Linked DNA regions of Homo sapiens. The protein of the gene in region 2 purifies or fractionates together with the protein of the main gene of each other region. This does not show direct contact. Each region holds a gene or a part of one and is shown on either strand. Other genes may lie near its edges.

Region 1 (3,500 bases), on a different chromosome or scaffold from region 2:
CTACTTTGTTTGTTTTGAGATGCAGTTTCACTCTTGTTGCCCAAGCTGGAGTGCAATGGCACGATCTCGGCTCACTGCAGCCTCCACCTCCCGGGTTCAAGCAATTCTCCCTGCCTCAGCCTCCCAAGTAGTTGGGATTACAGGCATGCACCACCAGGCCCAGCTAATTTTTTGTATTTTTAGTAGAGACAGGGTTTCGTCATGTTGGCCAGTCTGGTCTCGAACTCCTGGCCTCAGGTGATCTGCCCACCTCAGTCTCCCAAAGTGCTGGGATTAGAGACATCAGCCATCATGCCCAGCCTCAGCTATCTACTTTCATGTTCTACAGGCAAAAGAGCCTTAACTTAACTGTTAAATTTTTATTCAACTGCATGTTACAATGACTATTCAAGCTCATAGACTAAGATTTCAGAGAGGGATGCCTTTCATCTGCCCCTCATGGTCACCATTTTCAGCTGTGACATGGGATTTGATAAATATGAATTATACCCATACACAGAGCTGCACCCTAAACAAGGCTTGGTTTCCCTCTGCTCCCTGGGACTGATGTTATGTCTATTTGACAAACATTCTGAATGGTCACAGAAAAACTATTCTTTACATGATTCTTTAAACCCACTCCCACCCGAAAAGAGATTAAAATCTGCTTGTGCTAAATCATCAGTGTTGGATTAGCTAACTATTATAAACCAACAAATTCCTCAACTCCTTATTGCAATCCTGAAAGAACACTTAAAAGCCAGAACTGAAGACAGATTATATTTCTTTCTTTCCTTTTTTTTTTTTTTTTTGAGACAGAGTTTTGCTTTGTTGCCCAGGCTGGAGGGCAGTGGCACAATCTCAGCTCACTGCAACCTCCGACTCCCAGGTTCAGGCAATTCTTGTGCCTCAGTCTCCTGAGTAGCTGGCATTACAGGCACCCACCACCACACCCAGCTGATTTTTTGTATTTGTGTACAGACGGGGTTTCACCATGTTGCCTAGGCTGGTCTCAAACTCCTGAGCTCAGGCAACCTGCCCGTCCCAGCCTCCGAAAGTGTTAAGATTACAGGCATAAGCCACCACACCCGGCCGACAGATTATATTTCTATAGCTTCATCAATCTACTAGTCTCAATATCAATGTACATAAACTGGAGAAAATTCTAAGGCAGACCTTTTTACTTACAGGGCTCAATGAGTGGAAAAATAATTATAACTCTACCTTCTATCAGAAACCTATTCTGAGCCACGTCTTATTGCCATTCCCAGGCCACAAACATTTTCCAAACTAATCTGGATTCTACATAAGTTTCTTGAAAAATAGTAACATTTTACTGCCCTATGATCTCTTTACCTCATTTATGTACAGTTAACAATCTAGAAAAAGGAAACTGACAAAACAGCAAAAGCAGAATAACCAAAACCTGGAAGCCACCAAGATGTCCTGCAATAGGTGAATGGGTAAACAAATTGATATATCCACACAATGGAACATTATCCGTCAATTAAAGAAATGACCTATCAAGTCACAAAACGACATGAATGAATCTTAAATGCATCTTGCTAAGTGAAAGAAGCCAGTCTGAAAAGGGCTACATACTGTATGATTTTAATTATGTGATATTCTGGAAAAATGCAAAACTGCAGGGATGGTATAATAAAAAGATCAGTAGTTGCCAGGGGGAAGTGGGGGAAGTTGAACAGGTAAGGCACAAGAGATTGTTTAGGACAATGAAACTATTCTGTTTAATACTGTAATGACAGATACATGATGCTATGTATTTGTCAAAACCCACAGAATTTTACAGCACAAAGAGTGAGCCTTAGTGTTTGCAAATTTTTAAAAATCATTTAGGAGGTTAGAAGATCCCAGGATGGAATGCAGAATGTGATAAAACAAATTAATTGTATTATGAATATATGAAACAAGTCAATGAAGGAAATGGGAGACCTAAATAACTCTAGAAATGAATGGAGTCAGATGAAAGGCAAAAGAAACAGTACGTAAGCACCACATTCTGTTTGATAGTCTCCCACAGGAATGGCGATACAAGTTAATAATTCTGATACCACTATACATGTATACTGGAATTGAATAATTATGTAAAGAATGAATGACAATAGGAGACAGGTTTCTCACTGTTGGAGTGAGAAGTAACAGACAAGCAAAAGGAGAAGGCTAGAAGGATCCATGTGGTAATGGATTAAAGTTGGAGACATCAGTATGAACTCATACTTAGTATAGTACAATATACATAGTTACATATAGAAATATTTAAATATGTATATATATGCTGGTTAAATATACACACATATATTTTCTTTTCTGTGAACTCTGCAGAGAAGTATACACATTTTCTTGCTGTCAGCTATAAGGGTGACACCCAGGAGCAATGAGCATCCCTAGTGAAGAAGAAAGAAAGGAGAAGGGGGGAGGAGGGAGGGGGAGAGGGAGGGGGTGGAGGGAGGAGGAGGGAGGAGGAGGAGGAGGAGAAGCAGCAGCAGCAGCAGTAGTAGTAGTAGTAGTGGTAGTAGTAAGCATCTTTCAGTGTGAGAAAGTACCTAAGTACTAAAAAAAAAAAAAAATAAAATCCACAATGATTGGAGTATGTCAAAGGGACATGAGATCCAAGTGAAAGATTGGAGACTAGCCAAAACTGAAATAATTTGAGTACCAAAATAAAGTAATATTGAATTATAAGCCAAAGTATAAAATAAATACCCATGAGTACATGCTGATATAAATAAATGACTGAATAAATAAACAAATGGGGGAGAAGAGAGGAATCTCTGGCATAAAAGAATTCCAAGTAATGTCTGAAGATGCTGTGTCCTCAAGGAGAGGGGACATAACTTCTCACTCCCTGGGTGTGGGCTGCACATAGTGATTTCCTTCCAAAGAGTACATATGTAAAGGGGAAGAAAGAGTCACTTTACAGAGGAGAAACTAGATATATCCTACTTTAGCCAGGTGATCAAGGTGAACATCAAAAGTTATAAACCATGGTGATAATATATACACTTGACACAAGGTGATGAAAATGGTACTTTACCTCTGTTGTCTTCCACCCCCAAACATATAACCCCAGTCTAATCATGATTTAAACATCAAGTACCAACTGAGAGACATTCTACAAAATACCTGACCAGTATTCATCAAAATGTCTAGGTCATCAAAAACAAGGAAGGTCTGAGAAACTGTAAGAGCCAAGCAGAGAAATGACTACCAAATATGATGTGATATGCTGGACAGGATCCTGAAACAAGGGCATCCGGGTAAAAACTAAGGCAATCTGAATAAAATATGGACTTTGTTTAATGATAATGCATCAACATTGGTTCAATAATTATAACAAGTATACCATACAAATGTAAGACGTTAATAACGGGGAAAAATGTGTAGAAAAAAATAATATGAATTGCTAATAAGGGTCATCTTCAAGTGCACGGAAGATTATAAACTGCCTATTTGAACTTCTAACAAATCAACAATTTCTGCTAAAAGAAAAAAGATTTTCA
Region 2 (3,500 bases):
CTAAGACTACAGGTGCATGCCACCACATCCAGCTAATTTAAAAAATTTTTTGTAGAGATGAGGTCTTGCTGTGTTGCCCAGGCTGGTCTGAACTCTTAGGCTCAAGTGATCATCTTGCCTCAGCCTCCTAAAGTGCTGGGATTACAAGTGTGAGCCACTGTGCCTAGCCTGGAAAGTCTTAACCCATAGGAACTTACTGATCACGAATGAATTCATTAAGATTACCATATGGCGAATATAAGAGTTAATACCTGAGACTTCACTTTTTGCACAGGTTACTAAAACCTGACTAGGCAAGAACAAGCTGCTAATTGCCCAAGAGCCACACACCCAAGGAAGCATAAACATATTTTCTTAGTTGCAGCAGCCTTCCTTAAAGAAAATGTGTCAAGGCTCCCAAAACCTATTGGGGAATTACTAGTATGAACACCCACTTTTGGTGATCACTATTAAAGTGGAAAGCAAATGAATCTCAACAAAAGCCCAAAAGAACAATGGTTAAAATCCTTATCCATTTCTTTCTGCAGAAATCCTATGCAGAAACAACTATGCATTCTGATGGACCTTCTGACATTATGTAGAATTTCACATAAGTCACATTTATGGAAGGGGGATTAAAAGGGAAATATTCCTGGGCGGGCGTGGTGGCTCACGCCTGTAATCCCAGCACTTTGGGAGGGTGAGACGGGCAGATCACCTGAGGTCAGAAGTTTGAGACCAGCCTAACATGGAGAAACCCCATCTATACTAAAAATACAAAAAATTAGCCGGGCATGGTGGCGTGCGCCTGTAGTCCCAGCTACTCGGGAGGCTAAGGCAGGAGAATCGCTTGAACCCGGGAGGCAGAGGTTGTGGTGAGCCAAGATCACGCCATTGCACTCCAGCCTGGGCAACAGGAACAAAACTCCCTCTGAAAACAAAACAAAACCGAACAGGCAGGGGCCGGGTGCAGTGGCTCACGTCTGTAACCCCAGCACTTTAGGAGACCAAGGTGGGCAGATCACTTGAGGTCAGGAGTTTGAGACCATCCTGGCCAACATGGCGAAATCGTCTCTACTAAAAAAAAGAAAATCAGCTGGGCATGGTGGCACACACCTGTAATCCCAACTACTCAGGAGGCTGAGGCAGGAGAATCACTTCAACCTGGGAGGTGGAGGTTGCAGTGAGCCAAGATCGTGCAAGACTCTGTCTCAACAATAACAAAAAAGGAACGGGTAGGAAAAAGCAGTCAGAAGCTATTCTCTATGGTCTTGCCAGCCAGCCTGCTCTAACAACTTCCAGTAAGATAGGTTTTCTGGACAGTTGACACATTAAGATTGAATAATTTTTTTTTCCTTTGAGACAGAGTCTCACTCTGTTGCCCATGCTGGAGTGCAATGGTGCAGTCATAGCTCACTGCAAGCTCAACTTCCCAAGCTCAAGTGATCCTCCCACGTTAGCCTCTTGAGTATCTGGGACCACAGGTGCACACCACCACCTCTGGCAATTTTTTTTTTTTTTAACGAGATGGGGTCTCACTATATTGCCCAGTCTGGTCGTGAACTCCTGGACTCAATTCATCCTCCCACCTTGTCCTCCCAATGACTTTTCATACCATAATTCTACCTTCTCCAACATAAATAGGTATCCTTAAATTAGTTTAAGAAGTTTATACCTAAATTTGTCACAGAAATGCCACCTGAGTTACTACTCAGTTTATAAAAGATACATTTAGTTATCAAATAAGATTTCTGTACTGGAAAAAGGGACCACCTGATTCCTGTTTCAACCTAGGATTTAAATCAGTTACTCTTTTCTCTGGGGATTGGCTTCAAGTCTTCTGATTATATCCAAGAAGGCTAGGATGACTCAAGTCAGTCACTTCAACTGCTTGTCCATTTTCCTGATTGTTTTAAAGGAAAGACAAACATGGCTGTACTGACTGCTATGACCAATTGGCCTACCAGCCACAAATTAGGATGGCCTCCCTTAAAGATCCCTGGAGACACTAATGACTACAATAATGCCACTTTGTAACTAGTCAAGGTTATGAGGAGTCCACATGGGGCCAGATGCAGTGGCTCACACCTGGAATTCCAGCACTTTAGGAGGCTGAGGCAGGAGGATCGCTTGAGGTCAGGAGTTGGAGACCAGCCTGGGCAACATAATGAGATCCTATCTCTACAAAGAAATGAAAAAATTAGCCATGTGTGGTGACACACACCTGTAGTCCTAGCTACTCAGGAGGCTGAGGTGGAAGGATCGCATGAATGCAGAGTTCGAGGCTGCAGTGAGTTAACTGTACCACTGCACTCCAGCCTGGATAACAGTGAGAGCCTGTCTCAAAAAAAAAAAAAAAAATTCCACATGAAGTTAAACTAAGATAATTCAACATTCACTTAACTTTAATACGCATGTTTAACACTGGTCAGTATCAAGCTGAATGTTCTGAGTGTCTCTGCTTTTATTCCCTGTCCAACTGGCAGGTGACAGTCATTTAATAAGGAATCAGTGGCAAAACACAGGAGCAAAGGAAGAACAGCATAACGTATGTATCCTTTATAAGATTAGTCTATTTGGCCGGGTGCGGTAGCTCACGCCTGTAATCCCAGCACTTTGGCAGGCCACGGCAGGTGGATCACTTGAGGTCAGGAGTTTGAGACCAACCTTACCAATATGGTGAAACCCCGTTTCTAATAAAAATACAAAAATTAGCTGGGCATCATGGCACGTGCCTGTAATCCCAGCTACTCAGGAGGCTGAGGCAGGAGAATTGCTTGAACCTGGGAAGCAGAGGTTGCAGTGAGCCAAGATTGCAACACTGCACTCCAGCCTGGGTGACAGAGTGAGACGCGGTCTCAAAAACAAACAAAAAAAAACAGATTAGTCTATTCACTTGACGAAAATAACATGGATGTGAGGCCAGGCGTGGTGGCTCACGCCTGTAATCAGAGCACTTTAGGAGGCCAAGGTGGGTGGATCATGAGATCAGGAGATCGAGACCATCCTGGCCAACATGGTGAAACCCCATCTCTACTAAAATGTAAAAAAAATTAGCTGGGCATGGAGGCACGCGCCTGTAGTCCCAGCTACTCAAGAGGCTGAGGTAGGGAAATTGCTTGAACCCGGGAGGCAGAGGTTGCAGTGAGCCGACATAGGGCCACTGCACTCCAGCCTGGCGACAGACAGAGACTCTGTCTCAAAACAAAAAAACAGAAAAGAAAACCACATGGATCTGAATAGTGGGATGGCCTAAAACATTTCTATTTTGTATTTCAAGCAGAAGATGGCATCACTAACAGAATAGCAGGTACTATATTCCAGAACTGGTGAACAAGGGCTTCTGGTGAAGAAAAAGTTGAATGAGCACCACTGCCAGGAGACGATCTTTTTTTTTTTTTTTTTTTTTTGAGACAGGGTCTCTTTTTGTTGCACAGGCTGTAGTGAAATGGCGCGATGATGGCTCACTGCAGCCTCAAACGATTCTCTCACCTCAGTCCCCTGTGTAGCTGAGACTACAG
Region 3 (3,500 bases), on a different chromosome or scaffold from region 2:
AGTCTTGAACTTAGGTTCATTTTACAGCTCTTTGGCCAAGGTCCTAGTGAACCTTCCTATTGGCCATAAGCAGGGATGGTGTTTTCTGGGTCTTTTTTGAGAGCGACAGCCCATGTAGCTGACTTTGCGTGTCTGCCCTTAGATTAAAGTAGTTGATTTTTAGAATGCCAGAAGAATTCTAAATTTAACTGAGTAATTTTTTTAAAGTTAGCTTTGCAATCTTACATAGTGAAAGGCTGCTTTAATCTGGAAGAAGTCCTTGATCTGAGATAAAATTGATAAAAACGACATATGAATTTGAATATTTAGCTATTTCTTTCCTCGTCAAAAATAAGAATAAAATCTTGTAATTCTTATTCAGTATTTGGCGCTAAATCCATCATTGCCACATATCAAATACAGGGATATGTTGTAGAAAGGTAACATTCTAATTTAAATGCCACCCATATATTAAAAACCTGTTTTCTGAATCATAATGTCCTTTTGATACTAGTTCTGAATATTTGTGTTAAAATTTTAATCTGATTTGTTCATTAAAATTAGTTAATATTGCTTATGTTGGGACTAATAAAGTTTTCCGCACAAAATGTGTTTCTCCTGCTTCCCTGGAGAAAACTGTATTGGCTACTTTTAAATAAATTGTTACCATCTAAGCAGGCAGGTCATATGACTTTGACTGAAGCATCTAACCTTGAAGAGCAAGTTCCACTGATTTTCAAGGTGACTTCTTTGCTCAAAAGGGCCTTAATAGTGGTCACTAAATGCAAAATTCTGTTGATATTTTTCTTGTAGTCCATCATTTGAGTAAGCGATGTTTATTTAATGAGAATATATTAAATAAAACATGATCATTAATGACTGTGAACATCTTTATTACATTAAGATTTAAGGACTGCTCATGTATTAACTTCACACAGAAATATACTTTCTGTGTCATTCAGAGATGTTGAATATTTCCATTTGAAAATTATAGTGTATAACATTAGCATTCTTCTAAAGATCATGTTCGTGTTTAAATTCCTGTTGGAAGCCAGGCATGGTGGCTAACGCCTGTAATCTCAGCACTTTGGGAGGCTGAGGCAGGTGGATCACTTGAGGTCAGGAGTTTGAGACCAGCCTGGCCAACATGGTGAAACCTCGTCTCTACTAAAAATACCCAGCTACTTGGGAGGCTGAGGCAGGAGAATCACTTGAACCTGGGAGGCAGAGGTTGCAGTGAGTTGAGATCGTACCACTGCACTCCAGCCTGGGCGACAGAGACAGACTCTGTCTTATAAAAATAAAAATAAAATAATAATTCTATTGGCAACATATATTAATTTGAAGTTCTAAAGAGTTTGGCAGCCGGGTGAGAGAGTGAGGAGATTTGGCTTTGACATTAGGGAAGTTTTCGCTTGGTGTTAACACCAGTAGGCTTCTCTGATGAGGGCCATTCTGTCCACTCTTTTACCTGATAGATTGGTCTAATGCACAGTAGACTGATTTAGAAAGAGTAGTCACTAGTGGCATGGCAGAATCAATAATGTAGAATTTTGACAATTCATATAGTGCTGATTTCTCCCCCAAATGTCAGTTATTTTGGTCATCTATTAATAGACTAATACAAGTCATCCCTTTAATAGAATTTTCAGCTCACAGCCTGCTAAGCCTAAGAAACTGCTTACAGGTTACTGCTTACTGTTTTAAGCCGAGTTTTAAAATTGATGATCATGATAGAAGAGATAAATAAACTAAAATTTTAGAGAAATTTAAGAAGGGTATGTACATATGTTTTAGTGGTATCGGGGTGTATAGGGATTAATAGTCTTCTGTTTAAATTTTTTTTTTCTAATTTTAGAAGTAATGTAGAAAATTCGGGTCAGGGAAAGGTAAAATATATGGAAAGTTAAAAATATTTTATCATGTAGTCATAATTTCTAGTAACATATTTCTTTACAAATAAGACATAGTTGAAACAGATTGCTACAGTTCTTTTAAGAGTTGACATCTTATTGTTGATTTCTTACCACCAACTTCATCCCTCCCTTTCTTTAAAAATAAAGGGAAATAATAAAATTTATTTATAAAACTTTGTGGCATTCCACAAAATAATTCTGAAAGAATTAGTATGGCCAAAAAAATATGTATGGTGTTTTTTTTTTTTCTATTTTTAACCAAGGAAAAACTGTAGAGTGAGTGAGTGTGTGTGCATGTGTGTGTGAATGGGTGTATTTAGCAGAAAAGTAGTACTGATGAATATCATGGAATTTATGTGATGTTCACTGTTTCTTCCTTAGGGCCTCCAAGGATGTCCCCAAAGGCCCAGCGACATCCTCGAAATCACAGAGTTTCTGCTGGGAGGGGTTCCATATCCAGTGGCCTAGAATTTGTATCCCACAACCCACCCAGTGAAGCAGCTACTCCTCCAGTAGCAAGGACCAGTCCCTCGGGGGGAACGTGGTCATCAGTGGTCAGTGGGGGTAGGTAACACTTGGGCATAATGATGGTACTCATTTTGTCATTACACTAGATATAAAGAGGGCTGAGCTACAACTCTGTTTGAGGAAGTGTAAGTATGTATATGTTAAAAATAGTAGAATCACCAGGAATTGGGAAACCCATATTTTTATTCTGGGCTCTACCACTTATTCATCATATATTAAAGCAAGTCAGACACTCATTCTGAAGTTGAGATTTCGCAGTGAGTAAAGTGTTAATAATTCTTGCCTAGTCTACATTATGGGATTGTGATGAGATTCCTATAAGGTTCATAAATACAGATATATTGTAAAACTATAAAGTTTTGTAAAGTACCTCTCTAATATGAGGCAAACACAGTATGTAACACTATTTGGAGGGACCGTATTTCCTTATCTTTTTAGCAGCTTTGTTTATCAGTACATTCTATAAACATTTATTTTTGGCTTACATTGTAGTGTGTTTCTATAGCATCTGTATATGGCACTAATTCCCAACTATATTTCCATAATAAGGAATATCAAATACAAATAAAGGGTCCAAGTTTTATTTGTGATTAGCATAAGGAATATGCTGACAGCAGCTATAAAAGTATAAAAATTAGGCTGGGTGTGGTGGCTCACGCCTGTAATCCCAGCACTTTGGGAGGCTGAGGTGGGCGGATCACAAGGTCAGGAGATCGAGACCATCCTGGCTAACACGGTGAAACCCCGTCCCTACTAAAAGTACAAAAAAAATTAGCCGGGCATGGTGGCGGGTGCCTGTAGTCCCAGCTACTTGGGAGGCTGAGGCAGGAGAATGGCATGAACTCGGGAAGCGGAGCTTGCAGTTAGCTGAGATCACGCCATTGCACTCCAGCATGGGCAACAGAGCAAGACTCTGTCTCAAAAAAAAAAAAAAAAAAAAAGTTTAAAAACTAGACGTTGACATGATTTTACAATAAGGCTGACTGCTTTTGCTACTTTGCCAATCAGTCCTTAGTGCTTTGTTCCCATAACTGTGGTAAGCAAGAGCTTACAAAGAATACTTAAAACAAACAAACA
Region 4 (3,500 bases), on a different chromosome or scaffold from region 2:
TTTGGGGAGCCTTCCCAACTGAGCTGAAGGGTATACCACTTTTGCTACCATCAGGGTAGGAGAGTGTGAAAAGCAGAGTGGATGAGGCTCGCACGGTCTCACTGCCACAGCGGCAGAGGCTGCAGTTCTCCATCTCACAGCTGAAGAGCTGCCCAATAACAGAGTCCCCCGATGAGCAAAAGCTGCTAAGAGTGGAGAGGATGATATATGCACATTGAGGAAGTTAGGAGACCTTTTAAATCACAGAGGGGCCTGTCATGATGGCTTTAACTATTTCTATCCTGATTTCATACCTGCCTCCAGCACCTCGATAAGCCTGTGGTATTTCCAGCTCCTGCATATCTTGATGCAGTTGAGTGAGAATGAAGCGATTCCACCTCTGAATGAGCCTGGCCAGATTGCCCTTGCCTGAGGCCTCATCTGAGTCAGCCAGGATTAGACCGAGGGCTGAGGCCTCAGGAATAGTACGGAATGCCCGAAGAAAATTATTGCCCTGGAAATGTGTTGGTGGAAAGGGGTTATTTTGTCTTTTGTGTCCACCTTCCTTCCCCTTCCATTTTAAGTGTCTCCAAGTACTGACCTGGCAAGGGTCACCACGAGAGAGGTCCAACATGTGAAACAGGAAGCCCAGCTCACATGCCAGACAGAACTCCTTCTGGCAAAGGTGGTTTTGAATTAGACAGCGTACAGGCTCCAGGAAATAGAGCACCTGGAGGGAAAAGCAGAAGAACTGATGTAGGAAACTGGCCTGGGGGTGAGGAGAAATATGGAGGTTAAGTGAGCTGGTGGAGAAAATGTCCCAGAAGCAGGAGTCCACCGAAGCAGTGAGTCCACCAAACCGGTGGAGCTCAGAGGAGACTTGAAAGTTGTAGAGGCAAGAAAGAATTGTAGAGGAGACCATGGTAAAGAGAACACGGCTGAGGAGACCTGGAAAGAGCAGGGTCGAGAGCCATAGGGAAGAAGAAAAGCAGCAGGCACGTTCAAGTTACAGGAATACCCAACCCTTACCTGGATCATGCAGTTACAGTAGGCGTTGGGAATGTGGGGCTCTAATCCAGCAAACAAGGTCTTATTGTAGTGTTTGAAGTCAAAGTCCTCCAGCCCTAGCTTGGAATATTTGATGGTCACCTAAGGTAGAAATTGTCTGAGCAAGACAAGGATATTCTCAGAGTCCCCAAATCTTTCCAGTAGCCACAGCCTTTCCTAGAGCCTTCCTCCTGGGTCCAGGGTGGTAGTTGAAGGCCTCCTGACTGAGTCCTTCAATCCTTTCTCATATGACTTCCTTCCCAGGGTACCTTTCCCCACATCCCACAGGCCCTGATGTCCCCCAGCACCTTGCGGTATTTCTTAGAAACCATGTGGAGATGTGGTTCCTCTTCTCGTCCTACTGGTGACTCAGTGACCTGGCTGAAGCTGTCAAATTCACTGTCTGACTCCTTGAGTCTGTAGGGTATCTAGGGATTTTAGGAAGAGGTAACCTTGTTGGATGTCTTGTCATCTTTGGCTTCACACTCATTTATCCCAACATTGAAACAGCCACCAAGTCCTGAACCTTCTATATTCATAGCACTCTCAGCATCCGCTGCTTCCTTTCTATTTCCACTGCCATCACTCTGCTTCAGCACAGATGGACAACTGTGATGGCGTCCACACTGGTCTCCCTATGTTCACTCTGTCCAGCACACCACTACCAAATTAACCCTTGCAGAATGCTGCTTTCTGTGTATTACTTCCTCTATTATAGACTGGTGTTCAAAGCTTCGCAATCTGGCCACTTCTAATTTTAATCGCTCACTACATCCCAATACCAACAGCTACTCCGGCCAGACTGGTATACTCATGTAGTCCCCCTCAGATATGTGTTTTGCATTTATGCCTCTTGAGATCTTTACTAACACTCTTCTCTCATCTTGGATATTCTCCTCTGTTACTATCTACTTAACTGATATCCCACCTTTCCAGCTTAATACCCAGCTCTTTCATTACACCTTCCTTGGTCACTTTAGCCTGGAATAACATTTTTCCTCCAAACAGCTCTGGCACTAAATGCTTATGACATTCCTTCAGCATTTAACAACAGAACGTAATTTCTGATATGGCTATGTCTTCTCTTCACCAACCAAATACTAAACTTCCTAACAGCAAGGACCCTAGCTTCTCTATCTTTGAATCCTCCCTAACACCTAGCATAGTTCCATCAATTTGGTTGGTTACCAACAGGATCTAAAAACAAAAGAAAGACTAGTAAAGGAAAAAGATAGGAGAAACTTCAGTGGGCCGGGGTCGGGGCTGACCCTCCACTCTGAACACACCTGATTGCGCAGCCTGGTGCGGGGATTGGGCGCATAGCCAATGAAGCCCACCTTCTTCATGGTGCGCAGAATCTCTGCATCCACGGGTGGTGCTCGCCTACAATCCAGCATAGTTCTAGGACTTAAAGAGTTGTGGTGTACACTGGTCCACTCCCCAATCCCCAAGGGTCCAGAGAAAAAGAAAATACTGAAGGTAGACAAAAATCAGGAAAGTAGTAGAATAACAACAGGGCTAGCAGAGAATTCTGGTATCTTGGCCCTTTCCCTGTCCCTCCCGCCTTTTGGCCCAGAGGTAGGGTACAACCTGGGAGCTGGAGCAGAGTTGGCAGCAGGCCAATCAGAGAGAAGTGTGTCAGTGGTGAGTGGGACAGGGATGAGGGAAAGAGGCAGCAGGTCCTGGCTCCAGTCCAGAGGAGGCAGTGAGTCCACGAGACACGGCAAAGCAAACTCAGTCTCACGGGAGTAGGGGTTGAAGGAAGGCTCCGGGGAATCAGTCCAGAGGTGCACACAGCCCTCAGAATCCCCAAAGGCCAGAGCCTGCTTGCTGGCTGACACATCAAATGTCATTAGCAGAGGCCCCACAGGATTCACATGAAAGATATCGGCTGGGTTGGCCAGGCCTGTGGGTTCACAGAATTGGCACTGCCCTACAAAGGAGGAAGAAACCCACTGAGCCCTAGAAAGTGAAAGGGAGCCATATTCTTATGCCCTTCCTATCCTCTTCCCCTGATTTCAGGACAAGATGGGCCCCAAATCCATGCCTAGAGACAGAATGCCACTTCGTGCCTTCCATAAACCACAGATGGTTCGCTACTCAGCAAAGAGCAATTCTACAGTTATTTTGCCTACTTTATCTTTACCTTTTTCCATGTTCCTCATATTCAAGAAAATAAAAGCTCTAATCTCTGGCCAAACCCAAGTAAAACCTTGGGACCCTGATGAAAGGTTACTTCTTTCCCCAACAAAGAGGTTTCAGGATGAGTACTCCTTCGGGTTCTAGCTCTCCTTTGCTCATCGATCCCTCCTACCCAATCCCATATGCCCTTCATACCTGACTGAGAGATGATAGCAAGACGAGAAGTATATGTAGGAATGAAGCGCAAGAAGGCAGGATCCACATGTACTTGAAGTGGTGTGATGGCACGCATCATGCGCAAATCATACACCTTGAGGAAACGGTCGCAGGCC

The links. Proteins that work in one complex are often made in the same cells at the same time.
Region 1: the proteins of EIF4ENIF1 (region 2) and EDC3 fractionate together in Homo sapiens (co-fractionation; one large-scale study listed by IntAct). This does not show direct contact.
Region 3: the proteins of EIF4ENIF1 (region 2) and ATXN2 fractionate together in Homo sapiens (co-fractionation; one large-scale study listed by IntAct). This does not show direct contact.
Region 4: the proteins of EIF4ENIF1 (region 2) and PAN2 purify together in Homo sapiens (affinity purification with mass spectrometry, with the first as the bait; one large-scale study listed by BioGRID). This does not show direct contact.

Annotation. Positions count from the first base shown.
Region 1 is NC_000015.10:74,665,025-74,668,524, forward strand, and holds part of EDC3 (enhancer of mRNA-decapping protein 3), read right to left. Parts: intron 1-3,500. UniProt on the Homo sapiens protein: Binds single-stranded RNA. Involved in the process of mRNA degradation and in the positive regulation of mRNA decapping. May play a role in spermiogenesis and oogenesis.
Region 2 is NC_000022.11:31,479,843-31,483,342, forward strand, and holds part of EIF4ENIF1 (eukaryotic translation initiation factor 4E transporter), read right to left. Parts: intron 1-3,500. UniProt on the Homo sapiens protein: EIF4E-binding protein that regulates translation and stability of mRNAs in processing bodies (P-bodies). Plays a key role in P-bodies to coordinate the storage of translationally inactive mRNAs in the cytoplasm and prevent their degradation.
Region 3 is NC_000012.12:111,512,316-111,515,815, reverse strand, and holds part of ATXN2 (ataxin-2), read left to right. Parts: intron 1-2,276; coding exon 2,277-2,459; intron 2,460-3,500. UniProt on the Homo sapiens protein: Involved in EGFR trafficking, acting as negative regulator of endocytic EGFR internalization at the plasma membrane.
Region 4 is NC_000012.12:56,324,001-56,327,500, forward strand, and holds part of PAN2 (PAN2-PAN3 deadenylation complex catalytic subunit PAN2), read right to left. Parts: coding exon 3,364-3,500; intron 2,960-3,363; coding exon 2,617-2,959; intron 2,410-2,616; coding exon 2,313-2,409; intron 1,455-2,312; coding exon 1,335-1,454; intron 1,129-1,334; coding exon 1,009-1,128; intron 710-1,008; coding exon 581-709; intron 494-580; coding exon 294-493; intron 186-293; coding exon 49-185; coding exon of another isoform or gene 37-48; intron 1-36. UniProt on the Homo sapiens protein: Catalytic subunit of the poly(A)-nuclease (PAN) deadenylation complex, one of two cytoplasmic mRNA deadenylases involved in general and miRNA-mediated mRNA turnover.